Homo sapiens: one gene and its partners. The protein of the gene in region 7 purifies or fractionates together with the protein of the main gene of each other region. This does not show direct contact. Each region holds a gene or a part of one and is shown on either strand. Other genes may lie near its edges. The genes, in order: DNAJC16, CD9, UBE3C, SRSF4, SLC26A2, RIBC1 and ACVR1.

The links.
Region 1: the proteins of ACVR1 (region 7) and DNAJC16 purify together in Homo sapiens (co-immunoprecipitation; one large-scale study listed by IntAct). This does not show direct contact.
Region 2: the proteins of ACVR1 (region 7) and CD9 purify together in Homo sapiens (co-immunoprecipitation; one large-scale study listed by IntAct). This does not show direct contact.
Region 3: the proteins of ACVR1 (region 7) and UBE3C purify together in Homo sapiens (co-immunoprecipitation; one large-scale study listed by IntAct). This does not show direct contact.
Region 4: the proteins of ACVR1 (region 7) and SRSF4 purify together in Homo sapiens (co-immunoprecipitation; one large-scale study listed by IntAct). This does not show direct contact.
Region 5: the proteins of ACVR1 (region 7) and SLC26A2 purify together in Homo sapiens (co-immunoprecipitation; one large-scale study listed by IntAct). This does not show direct contact.
Region 6: the proteins of ACVR1 (region 7) and RIBC1 purify together in Homo sapiens (co-immunoprecipitation; one large-scale study listed by IntAct). This does not show direct contact.

What each region holds. Positions count from the first base shown.
Region 1 is NC_000001.11:15,533,348-15,536,847, reverse strand, and holds part of DNAJC16 (dnaJ homolog subfamily C member 16 isoform 1 precursor), read right to left. Parts: intron 2,612-3,500; coding exon 2,545-2,611; intron 374-2,544; coding exon 34-373; intron 1-33. UniProt on the Homo sapiens protein: Plays an important role in regulating the size of autophagosomes during the formation process.
Region 2 is NC_000012.12:6,227,900-6,231,399, reverse strand, and holds part of CD9 (CD9 antigen), read right to left. Parts: intron 1-3,500. UniProt on the Homo sapiens protein: Integral membrane protein associated with integrins, which regulates different processes, such as sperm-egg fusion, platelet activation and aggregation, and cell adhesion.
Region 3 is NC_000007.14:157,260,926-157,264,425, reverse strand, and holds part of UBE3C (ubiquitin-protein ligase E3C), read right to left. Parts: intron 1-3,500. UniProt on the Homo sapiens protein: E3 ubiquitin-protein ligase that specifically catalyzes 'Lys-29'- and 'Lys-48'-linked polyubiquitin chains.
Region 4 is NC_000001.11:29,175,401-29,178,900, reverse strand, and holds part of SRSF4 (serine/arginine-rich splicing factor 4), read left to right. Parts: intron 1-3,182; exon of another isoform or gene 3,183-3,500. UniProt on the Homo sapiens protein: Plays a role in alternative splice site selection during pre-mRNA splicing. Represses the splicing of MAPT/Tau exon 10.
Region 5 is NC_000005.10:149,984,758-149,987,900, reverse strand, and holds the end of SLC26A2 (sulfate transporter), read right to left. Parts: 3' UTR 501-3,143; downstream 1-500. UniProt on the Homo sapiens protein: Sulfate transporter which mediates sulfate uptake into chondrocytes in order to maintain adequate sulfation of proteoglycans which is needed for cartilage development.
Region 6 is NC_000023.11:53,425,873-53,428,743, reverse strand, and holds part of RIBC1 (RIB43A-like with coiled-coils protein 1), read right to left. Parts: intron 2,468-2,871; coding exon 2,351-2,467; intron 742-2,350; coding exon 660-741; intron 462-659; coding exon 117-461; coding exon of another isoform or gene 82-116; exon of another isoform or gene 1-81.
Region 7 is NC_000002.12:157,761,331-157,764,830, forward strand, and holds part of ACVR1 (activin receptor type-1 precursor), read right to left. Parts: intron 1-3,500. UniProt on the Homo sapiens protein: Bone morphogenetic protein (BMP) type I receptor that is involved in a wide variety of biological processes, including bone, heart, cartilage, nervous, and reproductive system development and regulation.

The DNA of each region.
Region 1 (3,500 bases), on a different chromosome or scaffold from region 7:
ATAAATATCTTTCAGTGAATAAAATTATCTTACCCAATTCTTCCAGTTCTTGAATGACTTCTTTCCACACAGGCTCGATATGAATGCAGCTAAAGCACCAATCGGAGGTGATCTTGATGAGGTAGGGTTTCTTGAAGCTATCTGGAACCACTTCATTCACATAATGTGAAAAGTGCAATAAATACTTTTCGTCAATTGAGTCCCGCCGTTCAGAATTAAAAGGGAAGTGAAAAAAGGATTCATCAAAATAAAAATTTTCATGGAAATGGCGGAAGCGATACTCTCGCTGCTGTTGCTGCTTCTGGTAGCCCTGGTTCTCTCCAGCGTCTCCATATTGATCATAATTTGATCTCTTTTCTTCATTTGAAAGAATCTATAAAGGAAGAAAAAAATCTAAACAACAACAAAAGGTTCATCCAAAAGACTTTTTTGTAAGCAGCTTGAAAGACATAGGAAGAAAATAAATGCAGCCAGTCGTGGTGGCTCACACCTGTAATCCCAGCACTTTGGGAGGCTGAGGCGGGTGGATCACTTGAGGTCGGGAGTTTGAGATCAGCCTGACCAACATGGAGAAACCCCGTCTCTACTAAAAATACAAAAAATCAAATCAGCCGGGAGTGGTGGCGCATGCCTGTAATCCCAGCTACTCGGGAGGCTGAGGTAGGAGAATTGCTTGAACCCAGGAGGCGGAGGTTGAGGTGAGCCGAGATGGTGCCACTGCACTCCAGCCTAGGCAACAAGAGCGAAACTCCGTCTCAAAAAAAAAAAAAAAAAAGAAAAGAAAAGAAAAGAAAAGAAATGTAAAAATTATGACACGATTATGTGAGGCCAAGGTTTGGAGGATCCCTTGAAGCCAGGAGTTCAAGACCAGCCTGGACCACATAGCATGACTTTGCTACAAAAAGAAAAAAAAAAATCGGCCAGGCATGGTGGTGCGTGCCTATAGTCCTAGCTACTTGGGAGGGTGAGGTGAGTGGGAGATTGCTTGAGCCCAGTAGTTGAAGGCTGCAGTGAGCTGTGATCGCATCACTGTACTCCAGCCTGGGTGACAGAGACAGACTGTCTCTTAAGAAAAAAGAAAAAAGATTATGACATAATTAGATATTCTTTTTCTTTTCGAGATAGAGTCTCACTCTGTCACCCAGGCTGGAGTGAAGTGGCGTGATCACAGCTCACTGCAGCCTCCATCTCTCAGGGTCAACCTTCCATCTCAGCCTCCTGAGTAGCTAGGACCATCAGCACATGCCACCATGCCTGGCTAATTTTTGTATTTTTCACCATGTTGTCTAGGCTGGTCCTGAATTCCTCAGCTTAAGCGATCTGCATGCCTCAGCCTCCCCAAGTGCTGGGATTACAGGGCGTGAGCAGCCACTGGGTCCAGCCGATTAGATATTCTAAATGCAGTCATTCAAAAGAATGAGAAACTCTTCTTTCACTAGAGAAACATTAAAGAACATTCAAGACTAAAATATTTCAGTTTAGGTACTCATGCTCATCTTGGCATTAAAGATTTCAAACTACCACAACATTAAACACTTCAGCAAAACAAATAAAATAACATAATGTTGATCACCAGGGCTCAATGACAAGAAAATTGACCTGGTCATACCTGGTGAGTTGGACCAATTCAAACCAAGATAAGAAAAGCTATGAACACCAAATAGCTATAGTCTAGTGCCTTGTCTGTTAATTTACTTTGTTTTACAAAATAACTTTGAAGTCTAAAATTCAGGAATCTGTTTTAGAATGATGACGTGTTATTCTATGAGCTAAGCACTGTCTGCTGAAGGGCATTCCCTATACAAATCAGAAAGCCACTGAATTCTCTTTGATGCATATTCCAGACCAATCTACTTGAGCTGACATACTGGAAAATTACTGAAAATCTTGTGTTTAAATGTATTTGTTACCTCGTGCCACTTTAATAAATATAGGCGATTTGGTATGTGATTCTTTAATGCATATTTCTAAGAAGGCAATAGTGACACATACAGACATACTCAGGGTAATTCTACAATTCTAGTTAAAGCCTTTAAAATAGGCCAGTTTTTCCAAGAGCTGAAGTGTTCAGGCACTTGTTCCAATATACTGGATGTGGCCAAATATGTTCTATTATTTTTTATTTTATTTTATTTTTTGAGACGGTCTCCCTCTGTTACCCAGGCCTCGATCTCTGCTCACTGCAACCTCCCACTCCCGGGTTCAAGCAATTCTCCTGCCTAAGCCTCCTGAGTAGCTGGGATTACAGGCACGTGCCACCACGCCCGGCGAATTTTTTTTGTATTTTTAGTAAAGACAGGGTTTCAGCATGTTGGTCAGGCTGGTCTCGAACTCCTGACCTCGTGATCCACCCACCTCGGCCTCCCAAAGTGCTGGGATTACAGGCATGAGCCACCGCATCCAGCCTGTTCTCTCTATTATAATCTAGAAACTGCATCAAGGGCATGGGGAACATGACCTTTCTGACAACTTTACAAAACTCATCACCTCCTAAGGCATATTTTGTAAGAGCTAATGGATGCATCACAAAGCTGGACACGATACCTCGTAAGCCTTACTGATTTGAATGAACTTGTCTTCTGCTCCAGGATCTTTGTTTTTGTCAGGATGCCTGAAACACAAACAGGCAGGCGGTGAGAAAGGATGTAACTTTTAATGCACAGTCATTTAATGTCCTTGTCCACAGAGTTCACTACAGAGGCAGACGGAGGGCTATTTTGTTAGGAAAGTTTCTTAAAATAAATGATAGAGGCAATCAGTTGTTTTACATGACTATAATAAATGAAACTTTGAAACAGGCTATTTTTTCCCAAAGCACTCCAGCAGGGCATGTTTTCAAAGCACCATATAATACTGCAGCATTTCACAGAGGAAGGTGGGAAATGGTGCATGTCTGTACACTGCTCCCAAACACTGCTAAAGCTGGCTGAAGGCTAAGTCGTTTATCCATAAGAACCCATGTCTTCTCCTAGGATGGCAACGTTTCATCCCAATGCTAGAATGATATCAGGATGCTAGAATGCTGTTGTTTCTTCTGATAACACAGGTAGACATGAGAAATAGCTTTTAGGATAGACTAAATTCATTTAGTAACAATCAGGTTTCAAACTGCACTTGTGCCTGACTTTCAAATTAGAACATTTTTCGTTATTATTACGATTGCTTTTTACCTGGATAAAGATTTCAAGGCCACTGTTTTTTTTGTTTTTTTGTTTTTTTTGAGACAGGGTCTCACTCTGTTGCCCAGACTGGAATGCAGTGGTACAATCTTGGCGCACTGCAACCTCTGCCTCCCAGGCTCAAGCGATTCTCTTGCCTCAGCCTCCCGAGTAGCTGGGATTACAGGCCTGCGCCACTATCACCCGGCTAATTTTTGTATTTTTAGTAGAGATGGGGTTTCACCATGTTGGCTGGGCTGGTCTCAAACTCCTGACCTCAAATGATCCACCTGTCTCGGCCTCCAAAAGTGTTGGGAATACAGGCGTGAGCCACCACGCCCG
Region 2 (3,500 bases), on a different chromosome or scaffold from region 7:
GATCTGTGACTCTGGGGAAGCCACTTAACCTCTCTGTGCAACAGTTTTCTATCTGTAAAACAGGAGTAGCAATAATGCCCACTTCCAGGATTGCTGTGAGGATTAAGTGATATAATCCACATGTGCACAACAAATGCTAGCTGTTGTTAATCTCAATTATACCAAGCATGAGTAACAATCATTAATAATCACCATGGTGAATTTTAACCTGCTGCTGTATCCCTACTGTCCTTTCACTGGGACCAGAGAGATATCCTTGATGTAGGGGCTGAAAACACGCACGCGAGAGAGAAAGTCTGTGATGTTTCCCCACAATACACAGCAGGACACTCGATGAGAACCCTCGGCAGGTGACACGCTGACTTCACTGTCCCACATCTGCACCCCGAGCAGGGGTGAGACTTTGCAGGCAACAAACCATGCAGTCTGCCCGCAGCTGAGGCTCACGGGCAGCACAGAGCAGAATGCACACAGAGAGCGTTTGTTCCTCCCCCTTCTCCCCCACATCCGTCGTGAGGTCAAGTCACGTGGGGTTACTGGCAAACCCCATGTTGCAAGAATATGGGTATTGTTCTTGTGCATGCCTGGCCCACACTGGGCAAGGGGACAAATGTAGCTTGTCCTCAAGTCAGGTCGCATCTTCCTGGGCAGTCAAACGCTGTTGAGGCCACAAGCTGGGCTTGGGGAGGCTGTGCAGCCCCATGCATGGAGCACTGGGTAAGAGGGCAGCCTCCTTTGGTTCTCTCACATGGGGACAGTAGAAAGGCCCCAGTTTCTCCCCATCTAATGGGGGCAAGTCAAGGAAGGATGAGGTCACTCCTTTGAGCTCCATAGCAGGGGCTGAATAAACAGGAGGTATTAAGAGATCAAAAGGATTTACAAACACATGAAATACCGTGGAGTGGGAACGAACAGGCAGACATGTTTTCTCTAAGTCCAGATCCCAGTTCTTGAACCTGGCGGTCCTGGCAGAGGCCAAGGGAATTGGATTAGCTGCAAGTGAGCTACTAAAGAGAAAGTATTTCCCACGCAGAGAAAGAGAACATGCTCCTAATGGGGCTTGTGGTTAATATTAAATATTCATGCTAGGGCTCAGCAGAGGAAGATTTTAGGATCACGGGTTTTGTGGGCTTTAAATCTTGCGTGGATGGCTACGGATCTGCAGTGCCTAGCTTTAGCCCTCTCTAGTCACGGGAAAAGGGAAGCGATCCCCTGGCAGCTGTGTTCGGGGACTCAGCAGCAGCCGGCAAGCTACAGGACAGCTCATCTGGAAGCAGGCCCCATGGAAGTCACGGAACCACTGCAGGGCTCGGGCTGGTTTTTACAAGGGCTATTCAGTGCTTCCCTTTGGAGAAGCTACTCATCGCTTACACCCCAAGCTTGTTAGCCAAGGCTGCTGTTGATAAATGACAAAGTGTTCCCCTTTATAAAACAAGCGAATGTTAGCTTGCTGTCTGACTCATGGAAAAAGTTATCCATCACAGAGCCTTCTCTAGGATTACGGTATTAATTTGCTTAAGGGTTGTTTATTCTGCTTTTTTCAGGCTGACATTACAGGCCCAGAAAAAAAAAAAAAAAAGAAAGGCTGGTGTAGCAGCAGTAGCATATGCCAGCGTGTCCTTTACACAAGAAATGGAACAGTGTTTTTCACTGTTCACCAGGGCTCTCAGTTTAGCCCAGGGAGAGGACACAGCAGGCTCCCGTCCCTACACCAGCTCTGTCCTGCAAACAGCACTCACCACGCCCGTTTGTGTGAAGGAGAACAAAATCCGGTAGGGCCTCTGGCCTGCAATAAAAGTTTATTATATCCAAATAACTCCACCAGGTGTTCAAAGGAGCCCTACCTCTGCCCCGACTGGTTTCGTCTTGGTTCCCGCCCTCCCGAGTTCACGGGAATAAGTGCCACAATGGAATTCCATTTGCCACACGCTGTACTTCTTTGCCCCAGAGGGGAGTGGGTGTGTAAGCTGTGCTGTGGTTGTGTAAGCTGTGCTGGTTTCAGGAGGGAGAAAAATGAAGCCCAGAGCAATAAAATGAACTGCCCCAGGTCACAAGCCAGGATGGGGATGCCAGCTTACTAAGGCCAAGTGTCGCGTGTCCTGAAAATCACCAGGCACCTCATCATGGATAGGGGGCTGGCCGAGGAAGGGGGGGCATTCACGGCCTCTGGCTGGAGCCCCCCTAGATGCCCTCATTCAGCAGCCATGGTTCTGGAGGGACACCAGGGAGCTGGGAAAGGCTGCTGGCCTAGGACCAAGAAAATGAAGTTCCCCAACAAGTTTGCAGCCTGGGATTAGGGATCTTGCTGACGGGCTGAATCTCCAGGCCTGGATTGGAGAGAAGGCCCATATAAGGCTGTCAGCTGCTCTGGACTTACCATAGACTGTTCTGAATGTTGGAAAGGTTTTCACTTGCTTTTCTGCCTGGTTATATACTCTTTCTCTACTTGGTAAGCTGTGGCCCCACTGGAGAAAAGACACCCCTGGGCTGTTCAGGTTTCCTGAAAAGTCAGCTGCATGGTCAGGCTGGCCTGTGGGTTGCTCTGCAGACAGTTGGTGGCCCAGTGCAAGGGGCGGTCACCCCATGACTATTCCTTGGAAAAGTAGCCAGGGTGTGGCTGGCACTCCAAGCTCATCTGCTAGGAGAAGGGCTCTGGGCCAGTACAGAAGGCTGGTCTCACAGCCTCGTGGGGAAGGGGACACAGAGCGACGCCTCCTTGGCCCTTTGCCCATGGACGACAATTATTATTTCCTAAAGCGTTCAGTGACGTTCAGGGCATAGCTCAGACCTAAGCAGTGCTCAGAGTGCTGTGCTGCTGTTTTTTTTTTTTTTTTTTTTTTTGAGATGGAGTCCCGCTCTGTCTCCCAGGCTGGAGACAGAGCCTCAGTGGTGTGATCTCAGCTCTCTGCAACCTCTGCCTCCCAGGTTCAAGAGATTCTTGTGCCTCAGCCTCCCGAGTAGCTGGGATTATAGGTGCACGCCACTACGCCCAGCTAATTTTTGTATTTTTAGTAGAAGTGGGGTTTTGCCATGTTGGCCAGGCTGGTGTCGAACTCCTGACCTCGGGTGATCTGCCTGCCTCGGCCTCCCAAAGTGCTAGAGGCTGAGGCGGACGGATCACCTGAGATCAGGGCTGATCACTGTGCCCAGACACAGTGCTGCTGTTCTAACTTTACCGTGCATCATCCCCCTTGCCGGCGCTTCTGCAGGCAGAACGAAGTCTTCAAAGCTCCGCTCTCTTCCCCGAATGGGGTGTCGCTGCAAAGGATCTGTATTTCCCTGGCAGAGCTAAGTGGACAGTGGCCCTTAGACCCCAACTAGGGGATCTGTGTCTCTTTGGGGTTGTGCCTTCAAATCACCCTCCTGGTCACTTCAGGTAGGACCACCGGCCACCAGCAGGGCCCTGCAATGACCTGCAGGATCTGAATCCTGTGAGGTTCCCAGAGGTGAGCCCCAGCTCCTCTAATGGCACTCACCATTCTCCTGCCACCCTGCAGCTT
Region 3 (3,500 bases), on a different chromosome or scaffold from region 7:
GGTGTGTGTGTGTGTGTGTAACAGGCCGAGCATGTTGACTCACACCTGTAGTACCAGGTGTGTGTGTGTAACAGGCCGAGCATGTTGGCTCACACCTGTAATACCAGGTGTGTGTGTGTGTGTGTGTGTAACAGGCCAAGCATGTTGGCTTACACCTGTAGTACCAGGTGTGTGTGTGTGTGTGTGTAACAGGCCGAGCATGTTGGCGCACCCCTGTAATACCAGGTGTGTGTCTCTGTGCTTAACAGGCCGAACATGTTGGCTCACACCTGTAATACCAGGTGTGTGTGTGTGCACGTAACAGGCTGAGCATGTTGGCTCACACCTGTAATACCAGGTGTGTGTGTGTGTAACAGGCCGAGCATGTTGGCTCACACCTGTAGTACCAGTGCTTTGGGAGGCTGGTGTGGGAGATCACTCAAGGCCAGGAGTTTCTGACAGCCTGGGCAACAGAGCAAGACCCTACCTCTACCAAAAACAGAAAAAATTATGCATATCTACATTAACACACACTCATGTAGGTAGATAAAACACATACTAATTAAAGGAAGGAAACATAAAAAAATAATGGTTAGAATGGGAGGAAATATAGGTTTCTTATACTTGATCACAATTTCCAATTTTCTATAATGAAAACATTACTTTTACTGAAAGGTAAAAAAAAAAAAAAAAAATCCAATATAAAAAAAGTGCTTTCGGTGCCAACAGCGCTCCCACAAAGTGAATGTTCCTAATACTTGCTAGACTTTTTTTTTTTTTTTTGAGTTGGCGTCTTGCTCTCTCAACAAGGCTGGTGTACAATGGCACAATCTCGGCTCACTGCAACCTCTGCCTCCCAGGTTCAAGCAATTCTCTTGCCTCAACCTCCCGAGTAGCTGGGACTATATGTGCCCATCATCACACCTAGCTAATTTTTGTATTTTTAGTAGAGATGGGGTTTCGCCATGTTGGCCAGGCTGGTCGAGAACTCCTGAACTCAGGTGATCCGCCCGCCTCAGCCTCCCAAAGTGCGTGAGCCACCACACCCGGCCCCCGTTCGACTTTCTGTAAGTGTGGCAAGCCCACAAAGCGACACGGCACAAAAGGGCACGGATTCTCTGTATGCCCGGGAAGGTGGCGTTAGGACAGGCGCCCGGGGAAGGTGGCGTTACGACAGGTGCCTGGGAAGGTGGCGTTAGGACAGGTGCCCGGGGAAGGTGGTGTTAGGACACGAAGCATAGCGGCTACGGTGGGCAGACTAAGCTGATTTTCCGGGAAAAGGCTAGAACTACGAAGAAGCTTGTGCTGAGGCTTGAGTGCGTTGAGCATAGGTGCAGATGTAAGAGGATGCTGGATATAAAGAGATGTGAGCATTCTGAACTGGGAGGACAGAAGAGGAGGAAGGGCCAAGACATCCAATTCTAAGTGTCATCTTTTGTTTTATTATGAAGACAATACAATCTTGAGTTTATGTTCAAAAAAATTTAAAAAATAGAAAAGGTAATTACCTTCTAACCATTGTAGTCAAATGTGAATCAAACTAGAGCAATGTCCCATTCTGCAGGAACCTTTGGAAGCACTGAAGCTGTCACAAAGCACAACAGGCACCCAACTGGCCACACCCACATTTCAGTTGGATTTTGTTTCAATTATATGTTGAGTTTAGCATATAATTTATGTTAAGGGTAAAACTAGTAAGAGCACAGCCCACAAAATGCTATGAAGAGGATGGGCGCGGTGGCTCATGCCTGTAATCCCAGCACTTTGGGAGGCTGAGGTGGGTGGATCACCGGAGGTCAGGAGTTCGAGACCAGCCTGGCCAACATGGTGAAATCCTGCCTCTACTAAAAATGCAAAAAAATTAGCTGGGGGTGGTGGTAGGTGCCTGTAATCCCACCTACTCGGGAGGCTGCGGCAGGAGAATCACTTGAACCCAGGAGGCAGAGGTTGCAGCGAGCTGAGATGGGCCATTGTACTCCAGCCTGGGCAACAGGAGCGAAACTCTATCTCAAAAAAAAAAAAAAAAAAAAAAAAAAAGCCTATGAAGAGACTTACATGATTCTTATTACTGATCTTTGTAGGTCTCTTTACTGTTAAATGTAAACTTCATTAAAAAATATATATGTGGCATATAATATGTGCTAAAATCCATTGTCTTTTTTTTTCTAATTATAGTTTATTTGCTCCTTTAAATCTCTCATAAAAATGTTAGAATGAGAACCAAAGGAGAACCAGAAATAACATTTATTACACTTATTATTCAGCATTCTGAGTACATGAGGGCAATAATTTTCACAAATGCTTGAATATACTAAAAAGGAAGCATTGCATTTTTGAAACAGAAAAGGATCTCTGAATGAAGGGGTCAGTGACTGCTGGCAAAGTCACTGGATAAATGAAAAGCTTAAAATATATTTTGCAATTAAATGCCACATTTTAGTGTTTCTTTCATAACGCTAATTGAATTTCCTACTTGGAGACTTAAAAGTAAAAAAATGAAGTTCTTCACTGAAATCTGAGTCAAGGGCACCATTTTGTGCATAATTAAATACAGTACAACGGGAATTTGCATTAATTCAGAGTGAGAAAAATCATTAATTTATTATGTGGCCTGATGGTAACTTAACAATTTTCTACAGCACTTTAATGATTTTTTGTCTGTAACAATCACATTTATTAAACATATTAAACTTTAATTAGCTTTAGCAGATGTTATTCTTCTCCAATAATCTGGCACTAAGGAGTTTCATAACTTTAAAATTATGCCTGCCTGCCTTTGCTATTTATAGTACTTCAACTGAAAGACATTCTCTTCCTTTAAGTCTACATTAATTCTGCAGCCCTGGCAAATCCAGGCATACTAAGCTAACCGGAAAGCCTAAATATTAAGATGATTTTTCCAAACTGGATGTCTAACATATAACAACTTCAAAAACACTTATCATGGAAAAATCAATTAAATTTCACATATGTTAGAACATTGAGAAAAATAAAAAAAACAGTAAGACCGTCTCATGGATGCTCAAAGTGTTTTCCACGGTATAACTCAATTATGATTGTGCGGGGTCTTGACTGGGGTAGGATTTTCCCTTTTAGTCTATTTGGGATTTTTTTTTTTTTTTTTTTTTTTTTTTTTTTTTCAGACAGAGTTTTGCTCTTGTTGCCCAGGCTGGAGTGCAATGGTGCAATCTTGGTTCACTGCAACCTCCACCTTCCGGGTTCAAGCCATTCTCCTGCCTCAGCCTCCCAAGTAGCTGGGACTACAGGCATGCACCACCATGCCCGGCTGATTTTTTTTTTGTATTTAGTAGAGGCGGGGTTTCATCATGTTGGTCAGGTTCGTCTTGAACTCCTGGCCTCAGGGGATCCACCCGCCTTGGCCTCCCAAAGTGCTGGGATTACAGGTGTGAGCCACCGCACCTGGCCAGTCTATTTGGGATTTTAAAAGCTCATGTAAATCCCTCTACTTCTGTTCCCCTAAACCTACGACGCTCACGCAGCACAAGTGGCCATGCACGAAC
Region 4 (3,500 bases), on a different chromosome or scaffold from region 7:
ATCATTGAGGAATCATTACAGAGGAAAACGACTTCTGGGAAGAAGACCAATGGTAAAGATGTATTTCAAGCAAAAATTGCCTGTATGGCAAAAACGCTGGAGAGTCTGAAAGGAAGGAGTGAGTACAAAAGAAAAAGCATAACTTAGCTACGTATGTAAGCTTATAGTCCCCTAGCAGAAGGGCAGTGGATCTCCCTACTGGGAAGCATGTTTGAACATATCTAGATTGTGATTAGTAATTGAAACTCAGAGGCCGGGCGCGGTGGCCTGTAATCCCAGCACTTTGGGAGGCCGAGGCGGGCAGATGACGAGGTCAGGAGATCGAGACCATCCTGGTTAAGATGGTGAAACCCCGTCTCTACTAAAAATGAAAATAAAAATTAAAAAAAAGTAGCCGGGCATGGTGGCAGGCACCTGTAGTCCCAGCTACTCGAGAGGCTGAGGCAGGAGAATGGCGTGAACCTGGGAGGTGGAGCTTGCAGTGAGCCGAGATCGTGCCACTGCACTCCAGCCTGGGCGACAGCGAGACTCTGTCTCAAAAAAAAAAGTAATTGAAACTCAGAAACAGATTTTGGATGCTTTAGATAGGTCTTTGAAGAATTGCTGGAGTTCAGATTTGTAGAAGTGAGATGTATCAGTAGATATGTTAGGCTGAAGGGTTGTAAGTTAAGTTTAGAATTAAGGCATAAAATGCTTGTCTAGACCGGTCACGGTGGCTCACACCTGTAATCCCATCACCTTGGGAGGCCGAGGTAGGTGGATCACTTGAAGTCAGGGGTTTGAGACCAGCCTGGCCAACATGGTGAAACCCCATCTCTACTAAAAATACAAAGATTAGCTGGGTGTGGTGGTGGGCACCTGTAATCCCAGCTCCTCTAGAGGCTAAGGCAGGAGAATTGCTTGAACCTGGGAGGTGGAGGTTGCAGTGAGCAGAGATTGCATCACTGCACTCCAACCTAGGCAACAGAGCAAGACTCTGTCTCAAAAAAAAAAAAAAAAAAAAAAAATCTTGTGTAATAGGAAGATGACCAAATAAGGAAACAAATGAGTTCTTCAAAGGAGATTTAGTGTTCAGGAAAGGATTCTATGGACCCTGAGAGGGTTTGGAGAAGAGGTGTGTAAGCAAGAGTTCATTGCCTACCGTTTTATTACACCAGGCATCGCTAATGTAGATTGCCACTGTTCTAGAGAACTTTTTGAAAGATGGTTTGGGACCACAAATACAACGAAGATCTCCCAGGATCATATAGACCATTCCATTTCCCATTAAGGTCTCCTACTTTTCTACCCGCCCCATAAACTTCAAGAGTCACTGCAAGGGCCTGGCACGGTGGCTCACACCTGTAACCCCGGCACTTTGAGAGGCCAAGGCAGGCAGATCACCCAAGGTCATAAGTTCAAGACCAGCCTGACCAACATGGAGAAACCCCTGTCTCTACTAAAAATACAAAGTTAGCCGGGCGTCGTGGCACATGCCTGTAATCCTGGCTACTCGGGAGGCTGAGGCAAGAGAATCACTTGAACCTCAGAGGCATAGGTTGCGGTGAGCCGAGATCCTGCCATTGCACTCCAGCCTGGGCAACAAGAGCAAAACTTCGTCTCAAAAAAAAAAAAAAACAAAAAGAGTTACTGTAGGGAAGGGAGGGGCAGGAATCCTAGATGCACGTCAAGGAAGCAACAATATTAGCAGCACTTGTTTATACCCTTTCAGCTCTGTGGTAACTTTTGTTGGCTTTGATTGTATATAGATTTTATTTTTTATAATAAGCCATTTCATGTAAAGTGTGAAAGAATTTTGAGTACACTAGTTGCCCTTTTGTCATAAAATCTTGTGGTTTTAGTCAGATCTTTATATCTTAGCTTTTCCATATTTTAGTTAATGAGTAAAACTTACCACATATTAAGATTATTTTGCCTGTCTAGTAGCTAGAAGGATAAACCCCCAGATCATTGAAATTTATAGTTTTATTTTTTAGTTCAAGTCATGAATTAAAACTCTCAAGGGAAACTTGGATTTAAACTTCAGAACCTGCGTTTCATGGAACAGTGAAATCATGAATAGCCTGAATTTTCAGGGGATGTTGTGGTCTGTTTAGTCATGCTATCTAATTATTACCAGAAAATTTTTGTTTTCGCCCTTGTTTAATGCACCATAATTTTTTTAATGTGGAGTTCAAGACTCTTCGAGTGAGGCAGGTCGTTGTTGTGTATGTCACTGCTCACTGGAGGGCATTATTAAGCCTTAGATACTGAGAAGAATTACTGCCAACCCCAGCACCTACACAGGGATTTTTCTCTTTTGACTCCTGAATTCTTGACAGATTAGGAAGTATATAGTTAGTTTAATGTTCCAGGTTGCTGGTTTCTGGTTAGATGAGCTGTTACAGTATTTTTTTCTTTTTTTTTTTTTTAAAGTTTTTAGTTTTTAATTCTCCCAAGGCTTCTCCCAAGGCTCTGTCATTCATCGTTACCGTATTCTTAATCATGAGAGGGATTATCTTCACCCACCACCAAGTGGCAGAGAAGTGCTTTATCATTTTTATGATAATGCTATAACTAATGAGTGACAAAAGAAAAAGCAAACACTTTGCCTTTAGGAACCCTACCACCTATTTGTTGTTTTTTTGTTTTTTGTTTTTTGTTTTTTTTGAGATGGAGTCTTGCTCTGTCGCCCAGGCTGGAGTGCAGTGGTACAATCTCAGCTCACTGCAACTTCCGCCTTTTGGGTTCAAGCAATTCTCCTGCCTCAGCCTCCCAAGTAGCTGGGACTACAGGCGCGTGCCACCACGCCCGGCTAATTTTTTGTATTTTTAGTAGAGACAGGGTTTCACCGTGTTAGGCAGGATGGTCTTGATCTCCTGACCTCATGATCCACCTGCCTCGGCCTCCCAAAGTGCTGGGATTACAGGTGTGAGCCACCATGCCCGGCCACCTTTTTGTTTTTAAGCCCTTCTGCCAGCCTCAGAAATAGCATCCCATTTGCACTGGCATGTACAAAGCATTAGAGTCTATGTTAAGAAAAGGAAGACATTTGGTTCTGGATTAATTTTAGGATTATCTAAGAAGAGGTTAAAACAAGTTTTGTTTAAAAGCGTGTTTGAATAACTCTCTTTATGTATAGTTAAAATTAAAGACCCACTCTTAATTTTCAAAGTAGCACATATTTATAATTGGAAATTTTTTTTTTTTTTTTTTTTTTTTTTTTTGAGACAGCGTCTGGCTCTGTCGCCCAGGCTGGAGTGCAGTGGCGCAATCTCGGCTCACTGCAAGCTCCGCCTCCTGGGTTCACGCCATTCTCCTGCCTCAGCCTCTCAAGTAGCTGGGACTACAGGAGCCCGCCACCGCTCCCGGCTAATTTTTTGTATTTTTAGTAGAGACGGGGTTTCACTGTGTTACCCAGGATGGTCTCGATCTCCTGACCTCATGATCCACCCGCCTCGGCCTCCCAAAGTGCTGGGATTACAGGCGTGAGCCACCACGCCCGGCCGGAAATTTTTTTT
Region 5 (3,143 bases), on a different chromosome or scaffold from region 7:
GCCAGGCTGGTCTTGAACTCCTGACCTCGTGATCCACCTGCCTCAGCCTCCCAAAGTGCTGGGATTACAGGCGTGAGCCACCGTGCCCAGCCTAACACATGATATTTTATTTTATTTATGTATTTTTTTGAGACAGAGTCTCGCTCTGTCACCCAGCCTGGAGTGCAGTGGTGTGATCTCGGCTCACTGCAACCTCTGCCTCCCATGTTCAAGCAATTCTCATGCCCCAGCCTCCTGAGTAGCTGGGACTACAGGTGTGCACCACCAAACCCAGCTAATTTTTGCATTTTTAGTAGAGACGGGGTTTCACCACGTTGGCCAGGCTGGTCTTGAACTCCTGACTTCAGGTGATCCACCCGCCTGAGCCTCCCAAAATGCTGGGATTATAGGTGTGGGCCACTGAGCCTGGCCAACAGATGGTATTTTAAAACTCACTGGGGCCTAAATGTGTTTTAGTCAGAACCCTCCTTGCACTTAAATAATTTAAATACAGAGTAATGTATTATTAGAGTAACAATTTATTAGCAGACAAAACAAATGAAACCTCTAAATCTCAACACACATACAGGATCTTACATAATAAACAGCATAAAACATAAGCTTCTAGAAGAAAAGTATCTGCTATTAACCAACTCCCCCTCCTTTCCAGTAGGCTGCAATACATTAATAACTCATCCTCATCCCATAAGAGGGTTAAGCAATGATTTACATGGAATTACATCAAGGCACTTGCTTTAATTAAAAAATACAGTATAAAACATGTTCCTAAAAGTCATCAACCTTGAATAATTAAAGAAAAAACAGGCAGTATACTTTTTTGGTGAATAGACAAGACTGAGAATTTAAGTTCATTCACCTGTCACCCTGATATTGTCTTGGTTTGTGTACAAAGTTCCAAAGAAGACAAAAAAAGGTAGCCTATTACATAGATTGGTATGTTCATACACACTCATTTCTGAGAAACAGAAGCCATGGCAGCAACAGGACTCAAACCATAATTTTCCAACTGATTTGTGTTGAAAAGGCAAGGGCTATTTGATCCCATGTATCTTATTATTTTAGGGATGACGCATGAGATAAGGGAAGAGAACATCTCCAAAATAAGTTGATTAAAGCTTCAGTTGAAAGACCTTTTTGGCTTAAGTTGCTTAGCTATAGACTTACAAACATAGTATCTACAATAAAGGCATTTAGTGTCCTTCATTATTCCAGTTTTTAGACTTCAGTCCATTCTTTTCCAATTTTCAACACTGAGATAAAAAATACACACCAGAGAATCCACTATTTACTACAATGCTTACTTTTTAACTGTACTTAACATGTTTACTTTAAAATTTCAGTTGCAAAACTTTTTTTTAAGTCCTTATCAGGATAAAAATTACCTTATAAAAATAAATCTCCCCACCTCTGACATCTAAATTCTCCATCCCTGTAAGTTACTAAATTTTTTTTAAACCTTAAAAATTTACCTTTAACGTATTTCAATAGTATTTTAATACACGGACTATAATAACAAACCAGCTGGTATATTATTTTGTCCTTTTCCATTATAATTTTCATTCTTGTAATTAGCAACCAAGTTAATGATTGCATTCAGGATTATCTAAACTGTTTTTACAAAAAAAAACCCCACGAATTAGGAGCCTAACAGCTTTCTATTTTTTTAATTAAAAAAACTGATTCTTTTTAATTTTTTCTTTTTATTTTAGGCTCAAGGAAACTTCCCTGCTAGTGAAACTTCACTCTCAACACCACTCAATGATCTAACAGCTTCCTAAATCCAACTTCATTCTTTTTGCAGTTTAAGCCCAGTTTCAAATAAGGCATCACTGGGATGGATAAAGAAAACACTGAGATGGGGGATAGAAACATTAAAAAGCAGAAAAACTAAGCAAAATCTAAATCCTGTCAATTGGATGTTTACCATTTCACACTGAAATCTTTCCCTGAATAGACCAGGGACATCACTGCCTCCTGCTCAGATCTCAAAGCTTCAACATGCTCCACAAAGCACCTCCCTAAGTACCCTAGTGTGTTCCCTGGGAGAGTTGCTACACAGCCCATCTACTGGATTTAGTACCATAGTCCCAGCACTTGGCCCAGGGTCCTAGACTGCTGGGTAGGTCCTCAGAGGTATCTGAAGTCATGTCTACATTGATACAAAGAAACGTATGGCTCATCTGTAACAATACGTAGAGAAACACAATTAAGAACAATAAGGATCACAGAACTCGAATGGATCATTATAACTTCAAGACTCAGTTTAAGTTACCAAGAAATGCACTGTAGCCCTTTTCTCACTTTTATATTCAGATCAGGGCTAACCCTAACATGTTCTTAAATGACCACTTATGGTCATTTAAGTGGTCAATGGGAATATTGCAGCAGAGAACTGCTGTTTTGTTTAAACGTACTAGCCATTAGCATTAAAAGAGTCTAATGAACTCATCTAACACCTGGACACATTTTTAAAGTTCATCATTTACCATATGTAAATTTGACAACAATTTTGACTTGCAATGTCTGTTGTTCAAAAGCAAAGTCAGACTATCTAAATCTTGTTTTCCTTTGGTCCTACTTAAAAAAAAATTAGACATCTTGTCAGTTTTATTACCATCAGAGGCACAGATAGTACTACAGTCACTCAGTTTAGAAGGAAGACACCGTGCTCCAGAGTAGGTCAGCCCAGGCTACCATGAGCTCCTCAGCCCTTTCAGCTTTGGTGAATCTGTGACCCTGTGACCCTCCCCTTCTAGAAAGAGAAATTTGCTCTAGAAAGATACCTTGCTCTGGGAGGTATGGCTCCTAATCCTTGTCTCCCTATTATTGTGTAGAGGCTAACCAGGGATTGGATCCTATTCAACTGGGTTCCTCTCTTTTCTGCCTCCGCTGGTCAGATAATAGTCTTTTCAATGGTCTGTTCTCTTCACTCCTCTATAATGTTTTCCTTAGTCTACCTGTGCACTGGCACACTCCAACCCTTTGGCTGTAACAAACTTAAAAATAAATAAGGCTGTAAGAGTTCTAACCATCAAGAGTATACCACACTACGTTTCAATTAAATAACCATTTTATGATACTCAGAATCTTGTACTGAGAAAAAGCTTCATTTAGACTCTAAAGTTTAGAGTAAGCAAGATATT
Region 6 (2,871 bases), on a different chromosome or scaffold from region 7:
CCCTATGGATAAGTGGACCTCCCCACACAGTTCTGGTCCCCTGGCTGCTGTACTCAGCTTAGGACAGATCCCCACTAGGCCTCAGGTCTCTGAGTCTGGAGGGCCGGGCTGCTTACCTGTATAATTCTCATCAACCTTGGCTTGCTGTTGCTCCTGCTGTTGCCTTTCCAAGTTGTACCTGAACTGCCCCTGCTGCATTCTCAGCCGTGTGTCCCTGTCTAGGTCTTCCCCAGAGAAGTACTGCAGGCTGGCTGGACCAGGATAGGTATTACTGTAACTAAGATAGGTTGGAAGCCCCTTCCAGACTTGGCCTGGATCCCAAAGACTAAATTCACGCCCGTTCTTGAGCTGCTGCTTCTGCTCCCGAAACTCCTGGACTTTCTTGGCCAGCTGACGTGTTCGATCTGCCTCTTCCTTCTCTAACATCTGGACTACCACATCATACTGCACCTGGCTGGTACCTGGGGGTGGTGAGCAAGGATATGGAGAAGATACCCCAGGAGGGACAGAGTCCACTTAGCATGTCCTCTACTCTCAAGGTCCATCCAATTTGTCCCACCACCCCAGGGCCTCAGGCCACAGAGGCAGAACTGCCCTACCTCAGCCCACTCGAGCTCTTTCTTTACACCCTTGTCTGGCCCCTGGCTTTTGGCTTTTACCATAAGCTGCCTCCTTGCTTCTTTCTGCTGCTTCCCGACGCTTTCGGTCTCCCACCTGGTTGTTCAGGGCCTGGACATCCACCTGATCCCAAAGAAAGGAGCACAATCAGAGTAGGGGCCCAGCAGGGGGCCTTCAATGTCCTACCACAAACTAATTAGAATTTACCTGTTTCAGAATCCTGTAGCTCCCCAGTACCTACTGGATAAAGTTCTAGCTCCTGAGCATGGTTTGTAAGCCTCTCCATGGTCTAGCCTCTGCCTCCTTCTCTGGCCTCATCTCTTAGTCCCACCTTACCCTTATGAGCTGTGCTTACAGTTCCCTGAATATCTTAGGCTGTTTTGAACCAATAGCCTTTGCTCAAGCTGCTCCCTCCACTTGGAACACTTTCCTCCCCTCTTTACACAAATTCCAATTTGTCCTTCGAGACCAGCTCAGCCTTCACTTTCCTGACCCCTCAGGCAGGTTCTACTCCTGTAGAATCTAGAACCCACTGTCTACATTATATTGATGTTCGCCTCTCTGTATTCTCTCCTCCACCAGACTGTGAACCCTTTCAGGGCAGAAACTGGGCCTTAGTCATTTTCGTATCCCCACTGCCCAACACAGTGCTTGGCACAGAGCAGGCCCCGAGGAAATGCTTGTCAGCTTGTCAGCTGGATCTCAATCAGAACACTAATACCCTAGCCAACTTCTTACGGCAGGCACTATGCACTGGTTTTCAAAGCTGCCACTCTGTGTTAACACTCACCTGACTTCCTTCAGCCTCATTTTACAGAAGAGGAGCCTGGGGCTCAGAGAAGACAGGTGATTTATCCAAAGCCACACACATAACAGTCAGCAGACCTGGCCTTAAATACTTACGGGGTCTTTTCCAGAATACCATGCTGCATCCCCCCTCTATCCACTCACCTAGCAATCTTTTGTTTCTTAAACTATCAATATTTTCTCTTTTATTATAATTCATTTATCACATTTCAAAATCATACAAAAAGGAATACAGTTTAGTGAGGCGTAAGTGTCCCTTCCATCTCTGTCTCTCAGCCTGGTTAAGTTTCTCAACATAGCCTTGCAGAGATAGTTTAGGTATATGCAGTAATTTTGAGACAGGGTCTCACTGTTGCTCAGGCTGGAGTGCAATGGTGTGATCTCGGCTCACTGTAACCTGCTCCTCCTGGATTCAAGTGATTCTTGTGCTTCAGCCTCCCAAGTAGCTGGGATTATAGGCATGCACAACCACGCCCAGCTAATTTTTGTATTTTCAGTAGAGACAGGGTTTCACCACGTTGGCCAGGCTGGTCTTTAACTCCTGACCTTGTGTGATCTGCTCACCTCAGCCTCCTAAAGTGCTGGGATTACAGGTGTAAGCCACTGCACCCGGACTCCAAATATTCTTTAGGCCTCTTTTAGCTCCATGTTGCCTGTCTCAAGAACCAGGTCACATGGCCCAGAGCTGACTGGAGAAGGGTCAGCCGTCTCCCCTAGTCTCTTCCCCTGCACTGACCTATCCCTCTTCCCAAGCTCTTCCCAGGCCTGTAGGGGTGGGTGCCTTCTCTCCCTCTCTTTCCTTTCCTGCCCTAGGGGCCTACTTGAATCAGGGGAAGGGCTATCATGGGCACTGTTACACATTCCTCTCCAGGTGTAAGAGTGAGGTGGCCCTGATCCTGAGCAACAGTCCCTACTACCCACTCACCCCCATGACTCGGTTCCGCACATTGAAGAATCGGTTTTGTCGCTCTTTTTCTCGATTTCTTCTAGCCTCGATGGCTGCTGCTTCCTTGGTATCTGTTGACTGTTTTATGTTATACATCTGGAGCAAAAGGGAGGTGGAATGGCCCATCAGTGCCGACCACCGTCTTTGACTACACGCCACCCCCATTCCTTTCTCCCTATAATATTTCAGCAGTTATTGATTCCTACTGATTTTACTTCCTGATATATTTCGTATCTGTGCCCTCCATCTCTGCTGTCACCAGCTTAATTCAGGCCTCACAATCTGGTGTCAGGCAGTATCTCAGGAGCCCCACTGGGTTCTCTTGCTCCAACGTTACCCTCTCTGCACTGGATTTCTCTGCACTGGCTACCAGAGTGATCTTTGGGAAGCAAATCTGACCATGGCACTCCTCAGCGTAAAGCCTTTGAAAGCACCTTTAAAGCAATGGCTCCCCAGTGCTTATAAGGCCCAACCCCCTTTGCCAGATTTATAAGGTTCTT
Region 7 (3,500 bases):
GTAAATTGTAGACCAATGCACTAAACCAATGTGGCCTGTGTTTGAGGTCCACAGGAAAACAGGCTCACATGTTAAATGTGAGCCTCTAAGTGGCTTAACAAGAAGCAAATTAAGCTCTCAAGCTCCACCACTGCTCTCACTAGTCTCCAAACACAAATTTCCAACAGTGTGAGATAGAGCATTTAAAGTAATTTATCACTACATAAAGGGCAGATTGCTATAAGCACTGCTTTATTCCTAAAGGAAGAGCTGCTTATCTGAGCAGTAATGCTGACCAAACCCACAGGCCTTTTCTCTAGAATCATGGAAACAGACAGCATTTAACTGGACCTCAATTGAAAGCACAACTCTCAGGTTAAATGGCTTTCAAATGCTTTCTTAAACCATGACTCATTCCAGAATTCCTCAGTCAATTAGGGAGACAGGCTTTCTTCACTGGCCAGTGGGGAGACACATACATGCATGCTTTATTTGTGGATGATTTTATGTTACTGATGCATATGCAGACTGACTGAAAATGATTCCTATAACATTTGTTGTAATGAAAAGTGCCAAATTGGAGCAAGCAGTCCCTGTAAACCACTGCAATGCAAATATCCCTTGTTGATCTCTCAAGCCATCTACAGAGAATGCTTCACCTTCCACTCCACGGCTTTGAATGTGGGGGATGACAATTTCATATAACATCAGGGAGCTAGCACACCTTATCTCATCCTTAATAATTAGCAAAGATACTGGCAACTGCATTACACTAAAACAGACAGGTTCCTCTTTCACCTATTTTTATAATCAACCCCAAGATTCTATGGACACTGTGAACATTTCCCAAATCCTATGCAATAGTCCCCCCACTTATCCTTCAGTTACCCGCAGTCAACTACAGTCCAAAAATAGGTAAGTACAGTACAATTAAGTATTTTGAGAGAGATACCATATTCACATAAATTTTATTATAGCATACTGCTATCATTGTTCCATTTTAGTGTTACTAATGTTCATCTTTTACTGTAGCTAATCTATAAATTAAACTATAATAGGTATGTAATAGGAAAAAACATAGTATATATAGAATCTGGTACTATCCTGAGTTTCAGGAATCCACTGGGAGTATTGGAAGGTATTTCTCAGGGAAAAGAGGGGACTACTGTATGCCCCTCCACCATTTGCAGAACCAAACAGTCAAAATATCAGAATATTTAAAAGGTGCAGGTTAAATAGAACATGGAGATATTCTGAAGATGGGAGAAGCTTCAAAGAACTTGTGGACATATTTTAAAGCCACCACTGCTAGGATCTCCAGGTGAGGCATAATTCCCCATCCCTTGAGTGTATGCTGGACTATTGAATAGACTATGGCATAAGTGACAGTGGGTATCTTCACAGTTAGGATATAACAGATGTTATAAAATTATAAAAGGCTTCCTGTTTGTCCCTCTCAGCTCACCATGCACCATGTTATAAAGACACTCAAGCAACCCTGTGGAGAGGTCCCCCTGCAAGGAGCTGAGACCTGCCGCCAATCATGGCTTTAAGTGTGTCCTCACAGAGTTGGAAACTCCAGCTCTGGTTGAGCGTTCAGATGATTGCAACCTCCACGAGACCCTGAGCCAGAACCACACCGCTAAGTCATTCCAAGATTCCTGACTCTCAAGAGACTGTGTGAGATAACAAATCTGTGTTGTTTTAAGATGCTAAATTTTACAGGTGATTTGTTCTTAGTAATAAGTAATTTTTACACTAAAGATGACAAAACAACCGGATGCAATTTGTAAACTTTGGCTGAGTTCCTCTTTGAAAAAACTGAAAACATCTGAAAATGAATATAAAATGATACTAGAGAATTATCAATAATCTGTAGATATGAAAAACTGATTATGAAGAAGATGCATTTTTAAGTATTTTCAAGGGATGAATTTTGAAGTATTGAGGGGTAAAGTGTTGTGATGCCTGTAACACTTTATTTTCAAATGGATTGGCAAAAATATACACATGGTCACAGATTGATAAAGCAAACATCACAAAGTTTTAACAATTATTGAATCTAGGTGTTCGGGATTTAAGTGATCATTATAACATTTGAATTTTTTAATAATAAAAAGAAAAACAGACGAGGCACAGTGGCTCACATCTGTAATCTCAACATTTTGGGAGGCCGAGATGGGATTGTCACTTGAGCTCAGGTGTTCAAGATCAGCCTGAGCAACATAGTGAGACCTCATTTCTACTAAGAACAAAAAAAAGTTAGCCAGGTGTGGTGGTACACACCTGTAGTCCCAGCTGTTTTGGAACGCTGAGGCAGGAAGATTGCTTAAGCCCAGTAGATCGAGGCTGCAGTGACCTATGATCAGCCTGGGCAACAGAATAAGATCCTCTCTCAATCAATTAATCAATATAATACTGATCTTTTTGCAGGATTAATCATAGAACACTATTTCTAATACATGATCCTTAATTGCTAGGTATATACTGGTAAGTTATATACAAATTATGGTCTTATAAGAGTTGTTTCCTGCACTGCATTGTTTTACCATATCCTGAATAATAACGCCTTAACAGATTTTTATACAAACCCATATATCTAATTGGAAGGTTACAAGCCAAAAGAAATGTAGTTGAAGAATTAATTAGCTGGACTTACTGCAAAGTTCCCCTCAACTCCTTCCCTACCAAGTCCCATAAACCAAAACCAAGAGCCACCTCAATTTGTCCACCCTCCCCAGACCACTGGATTATAACAGAAGCTACAACTTGAATCCTTATTGTTTACCAGACATTTATAATACTTCTGGGCCTTACCAGAATCCGGTGAGGTGGGCTTATTTTTTAGTTACATGAGTAATATATGATCACACTATATATATATTTTTTTTTAGACGAAGTCTCGCTCTGTCGCCCAGGCTGGAGTGCAATAGCGCGACCTCGGCTCACTGCAACCTCCGCCTCCTGGGTTCAAGCAATTCTGCTGCCTCAGCCTCCCCAGTAGCTGAGATTCCAGACGCACGCTACCACGCCCGGCTATTATTATTATTTTTCTTTTTTTTTTTTTTTTGTATTTTTAGTAGAGATGGGGTTTCATCACGTTCGCCAGGCTCATCTTGAACTCCTGACCTCAAGTGATCCTTCCGCCTCGGCCTCCCAAAGTGCTGGGATTACAAGCGTGAGCCACCGCGCCCGGCCACGATCACACTGTTATGCAAGTTTCTAACAACGCAGAAGTACAGGGCACAGCGTCAAGCCCTGGAGTTCCTCTTGGCTAACTCCCAACCCCATCCGCCTTCGCCCTCACTGTCCCTGTCTCACTGAGTGAAAGCAGTGTCAGCACTTGGGCCAGGTAAATAGATAAATAGACTTGCACAAAAATACAGGGTAATTGAGAAAGCCAGAATTTAAACCCAAATCGCCCTGGCTCTAAGAGCCATGGAATAAGCCATAAAAGTCCTCTACACCACAACTAAAAATGCCTGCAAAAAACTTTAGGGCCATGCTCTTTCAATGCTTAT